Linked DNA regions of Homo sapiens: region 1 is linked to region 2. Evidence: fine-mapped expression QTL. Tissue or cell type: whole blood. Region 2 holds a variant in brackets; the other region holds the start of a gene. All regions are shown on one strand. Distances are from middle to middle.

Region 1 (2,646 bases), 280 kb after region 2:
GACTCCGTCTCAAAAACAAAAACAAAAACAAAAACCCTGATCTTTCACTTCGGGCCTGACAGCAGCTTGACTGGAAGTTTGCTCCCGCAGTTCTGAGATTCTGGCCTTTTCTTTTGTCCCATTGGTACTTTTTGCTGCCAGGGTTTCCTGTCCTTCAGGTTTCCATCCCCAATCAGTTGAGAGTCCGACTGGAGTACCCAAGGTGCGTTGAGGAATGAGGCACAGCCCTGGGCTTAACTCATCCAGCCTGGCCAGCTCAGCCTTCCCCTGTCAGGTGGGAGCCTAGGATTGCTGTCAGCCCAGGGAGCAGAGTTGGAAGAAGGGGGCAGGGCCCTACCTAGGCTGCGGCCCATCGGGGCAGCCTGCGCTGGTGGCTTCGGAAGGCCCTGGTTTGAGGATGGGTGCGGCAGGAACAGCCTGAAGATAGTGGATGGAGAAGGTACCTGAGGTGTTGGGAGCTCTGCTGGTGAGCTGGGCCCTTCACGTCAATGTTAGAGGTTGTTACGTGCTAGGCGCTGTTCAAGCACTGGGAATTAGCTAAACAAAATGACCATTACTGTCATGGAGCTCACCCCTAGTTGAGAAAAATAAGCCGAATCACACGGCAAGTGCTAGGAAATATAAGCAGGGATAGTGAGGGAGTTATTTTACCTAAGTTTGAAGGGAAAGCCCTCTGATAAGGCGACATTTGAGCAAAGGCCCGGAAGAAATGAGATACGTCTCGCCCAGTCGCACCCTGTCTCTACCTGACAAGTCTCCGGCCCGCGGACTGAGTGGGGGACCTGGGCGGCCGCCATCCCCCACTTCCTCATTGTTCCACGGCCCTGGATCGCCTTCTTTTCTCGGTCCTCCCGAGGACCGGATGCTTCTCCTCTCCCTGGCGTGTGTGGAAGAGATGGACGCTACGCTAGAGCACATCGCACGGGCGGTCCCATTAAAAATCAGATGGGGGAGAGAAGCGAGCCCAAGTCAACCGAGGGGAGCGGGGAGCGGAAAGGGAGGAGCCGTCGGGGGCGGGACAGACACCCTGCCCACCGGAGGGGCGCGCCACCGCCGCCCCCGCTCCACTCCGCCAGGGGGCGCTGTGTGGCTCCCGAGTAGGCTCAGAGCGACCGTGGCCGGGCGGAAGCGGCTTTCTGGCCTAAGCTTTAACAGGCTTCGCCTGTGCTTCCTGTTTCCTCTTTTACCAAGGACCCGCCAACATGGTAGGTGTTTTGGCTCGAGGCCGCCATCCTCCACAATCGTCCCCCATCTGCAGCTTCCCGCGGTCCTCAGCCCACAGAGAGGCCCTGGGCCGGGAAGGCGCAGAGCCCTGTCAGGCTGGAGCGCAACGGGCCGGCGGCTTCCGCATTAAGCCCGGCGCCCGGCACTGTTTAGCCGGGCCCTCTCCGGCTCAGCGCAGCCGGCGGTCCCCAACCACACCGGCCGGGGCTCGGCGCCGCACTCTTCCCAGAAGGTTGCGCTGGCTCGTGAGTGATCCTGTCCTCTCCACCCGCAGGGCCGCGTTCGCACCAAAACCGTGAAGAAGGCGGCCCGGGTCATCATAGAAAAGTACTACACGCGCCTGGGCAACGACTTCCACACGAACAAGCGCGTGTGCGAGGAGATCGCCATTATCCCCAGCAAAAAGCTCCGCAACAAGATAGCAGGGTGAGTCGGGCCTTCCTCGGCCTCCGGGGCTCCGCGATCTGTTTGTGTGCTCTGCCGCCCTCCGACTCGGGAAGAGACGGTGCCTTGGTGGTTTCGTTAGCCTGAGACTCCCTGGTGTCCCGGAGAAGGGCTAGAGCTCTGCGTGTGCAGGATTTCTGTTGTGAACTTAGGCCTGTGTCATGACTGGCCGCGGTGACCCTGGGTCGAAGGTAGCCACCGTCAGACCTCTTGCTTTGAAGCTACGTTGCTTTTAGTTGTCAACTTTTTTCTTTCTTTTTTTTCTTTTTTTTTTGAGACGGAATCTTGCCCTGGCGCCCAGGCTAGAGTGCAGTGGCGCCATCTCGGCTCACTGCAACCTCCGTCTCCCGGGTTCAAGCGATTGTCATGCCTCAGCCTTCCCAGTAGCTGGGATTAGAGGCACGTGCTACCACACTCGGCTAATTTTTGTATTTTTAGTAGACAACAGGGTTTCACAATGTTGACCAGGCTGGTCTCGAACACCTGACCTCAAGCGATCCGCCCGCCTCGGCCTCCCAAATTGCTGGGATTACAGGCGTGAGCCACCTCGCCCGGCTGGATGTCAACTTCTAATGCTTACTTCACAGTTGCAGTTACTGTTCGAGAGATTTATAGGCATATGGCCTGGAAGAATAGTGCCAAAGTCAACGTATTAATTGCCAAGTTATGTGAATTTGAAATTGGAAGAAAATGAAGGCTGTGAAGGGTCGTGAAACTGCGGGGCGGGGCGGGGCGAGTTGGGGGTGGGGCGCTTGATCATCATGAAGGAGAGTTTGAATAGAGAGTGAGAAACCAAGGGGAAGGAATGCTCAGGCCAGTGGAGGTTCTATGTGTAGGAGGTCCCAGGATAGTGAGTCCTCTTCCTTCTCACTGTGGAAAAGAACTAAAGCGGGTATTTATATATGCACATGTGCTCAGTACCAGGTGGGAGTTGATTTGTCTTCTCACTGTTCTCTTTGGCTGTGTGTGCTTTGTAGT
Region 2 (2,851 bases):
AGTGCAGTGGCACCATCTCGGCTCACTGCAATCTCCACCTCCCAGGTTCAAGCGATTCTCCTGCCTCAGCCTCACAGGTAGCTGGGATTACAGGCGCCTACCATCATGCCCAGCTAATTTTTGTATTTTTAGTAGAGACAGGGTTTCAACATGTCGGCCAAGCTGGTCTTGAACTCCTGACCTCAAGTGATCTGCCCCACTCAGCCTCCCAAAGTGCTGAAATTACAGGTGTGAGCCACCACACCCAGCCTGGGAGCATCATTTTAAATGTACAACCTATCTAGAGGGTCATTATGTAGCATGAAATTTAGAAATCAGAAAATAATATGGAGGTGAGGAAAAATGTATCTCAGATGATTATTGTACTGTTATGTATCAAAATGTAAAATATACATTGCCCTTGACCCAATAATTCCATCCTTAGAAATTTATTCCAAGGAAATAATCTGTCCTATACTCAAAGACATGTGTAAAGTTCACTACACTACTGTTCAAAACACCTGAAATTTGGAAATCATGGTATATCCATATAATGGAATACTATGCAGCCATTAAAATTTTGATACTTTTATTATTCACTGAAATAGAAAGACAGTTATGTATTAAATGAAAAAGAGACTATTATGCATTATATGCCTATGTCAAAATATCTCATGTAACCCATAAAAATATATATCTACTATGCACCCATAAAAATTAAAAATTGTTTAAAAAGATGTTACTGAACTGGTTATATATTTTGGTTAAAAATTTATATTTTTATATATCAGCATATTTTAAAATCTACAAAGTTATACAGCAAATTGTTACCACGAAGTATCTTTTTTTTTTTTTCCTTTTCAAGATGGAGTCTCGCCCTGTTGTCCAGGCTAGAGTGGAGTGGCACGATCTTGGCTCACTGAAACTTCCACCTCCCAGGTTCAAGCCATTCTCCTGCCTCAGCCTCCCAAGCAGCTGGGATTACAGGCACGTGCCACCACACTGGACTTTGTGTTTTTAGTAGAGACAGGGTTTAGTATTTTTGTATTTTTAGTAGAGATGGGGTTTCACCATGTTGGCCAGACTGGTCTGGAACTCCTAATCTCAAGTGATCTGCCCGCCTCGGCCTCCCACAGTGCTGGGATTATAGGCGTGAGCCACTGTGCCCAGCCAACCACTAAGCATCTCTAGATGATGGGATTGGGGTAATAATCATTTTTCTTTCTTTGTTTTGCTATGTGTTAACAATGAATATATTATTTGAATAATAAACCACTGAAGGAAAACTTTAGGAAATTTTCAGATGTTATAATTTACAAAAAGTAATTGATAATATGGTCTGTATTTCCTTAAATTTATAATTTAAACATTGCAATCTATATACTTAAATTTTACCTTTTATAAGTCTTTTAAGAGAGTCCAACTGTGTAGTAAGCAGTATTTCTTCGTTTTTTAATATCTCAAATTTAACTTCATATAGTTCTAATTGAATTTCATAAAATTGTATTTCTAATTCATCTACAACATTTGTATTTTTTTCTTGTTCTGGAAGATCTTCCATCTTATTTTCATAGAAAAAAGAAAAATAAGTTAAAATAAATTAGTATATTAAAAACAAACTTTAGAAGCATTCTAGCTAT[T/C]TTCTATTCCTTGTTCAGTACTAAATATAACAAAGCAAATAGGAAAGAAACACTTTTTCATTTCATCTAGTGATGCAAATACTTTATCTCATCCTTGAAACAGAGGAAAACATTTAGGTTCTGAGAAACATAAATGGCAATGAGGTATTATTATGTACTGCATATTGGTGTCCCCCCAAAAATTCGTATGTTGACACTCTAACTCCCAGTGTGATGTTATTTGGAGGTGGGTCCTTTGGAAGTAATTAAGTTCAGATTATGTCAAAAGGATAGCACCCCCATCATGGGATTAGTGCCTTTATTAGAAGAGAAAGAGAGGGATCACTTTCTTTCTAAACATACACACAGAAGAAAGGCTATATGAGCACTCAGTTAAGAAGGCAGCTGTCTACCAGACAGGAAGAGGATCCTCACCGGACAGTGAATCTGCAGGCACCTTGATCTTGGACTTTCCAGCCTCCAGAACTGTGAGAAATACATGTCCGTTGTTTAAGCCACCCAATCTGTGATATTTAATCTTGTTATAGAAGCCTGAGCCAACTAAGACAGGTGTTTACAGTGTTTTCTGCTTTAAAGTCATAAGATTATAGGAAAAAATTTAAGTGACTATGCAGTGAAGTATCTCTTTGATTATTTTAAAGTTGTAGTGAAAACATTGCTGGGTTGATTTTCAAGTACAGTACCCATTTCAATACTGAGCTTGGTATTACTATAAAGTGAAACCTACAATATGGTATTTTGAAACATCTTAACCAAAGGAAAACTTTATGTCTAACCTTCCACAGAAGATGGTGTTGGAATAAGCGAAGAAAAGAAGCTCTTTAACGATGCCTGGAAAGAAAAGTGCTATCTAAAAATAAAAGTGTGCTTTACCACATGGTCTCACTTATAAGTGGGAGCTAAGTAATGTGTATACACAGTGTGGAATAATACACACTGGAGACTCAGAAGAGTAAGAGGGTGGGAGGGGGGATGAGAAATATTTAATAGGTACAATTACATTATACAGGTGATGATTACACTAAAAGCCCAAACTTCACCACTACACAATATATCCATGGAACAAAAACTGCACTTGTATCCTTTATTTATACAAAATGTTTTAAAAATAAAAGTGTATTTTTAAAACAAAGTTATGTTTATCTTTGTCTTACCTTTCCCTGAATTTCAGCTCTTTTGTGATTTAAACACAACTCTTTCGCTCTCATGAGTTGCAGAGTCTCTCGAGCTAG

Evidence for each region. PIP is the estimated chance that this variant, and not a neighbour inherited with it, causes the effect. A credible set is the group of variants that fine-mapping cannot tell apart.
Region 1: it holds the start of RPS17, and the variant in region 2 is the best candidate, but not a certain one, in a credible set for the expression of RPS17 in whole blood (TOPMed, PIP 0.50).

What each region holds. Positions count from the first base shown.
Region 1 is chr15:82,538,985-82,541,630 of GRCh38, reverse strand. RPS17 (ribosomal protein S17) reads left to right here and starts at 1,174. Exons shown (of 5, transcript NM_001021.6): 1 at 1,174-1,205; 2 at 1,499-1,650; 3 at 2,646. The coding sequence starts at 1,203. RefSeq lists an enhancer at 317-818 and silencers at 938-1,037, 1,048-1,167.
Region 2 is chr15:82,818,012-82,820,862 of GRCh38, reverse strand. WHAMM (WASP homolog associated with actin, golgi membranes and microtubules) reads right to left here. Exons shown (of 10, transcript NM_001080435.3): 4 at 2,774-2,851; 5 at 1,375-1,540. Among named protein-coding and RNA genes, the nearest start is that of WHAMM, 9.8 kb to the right of the region's middle. The variant T/C (reference allele first, on the strand shown) is at 1,620.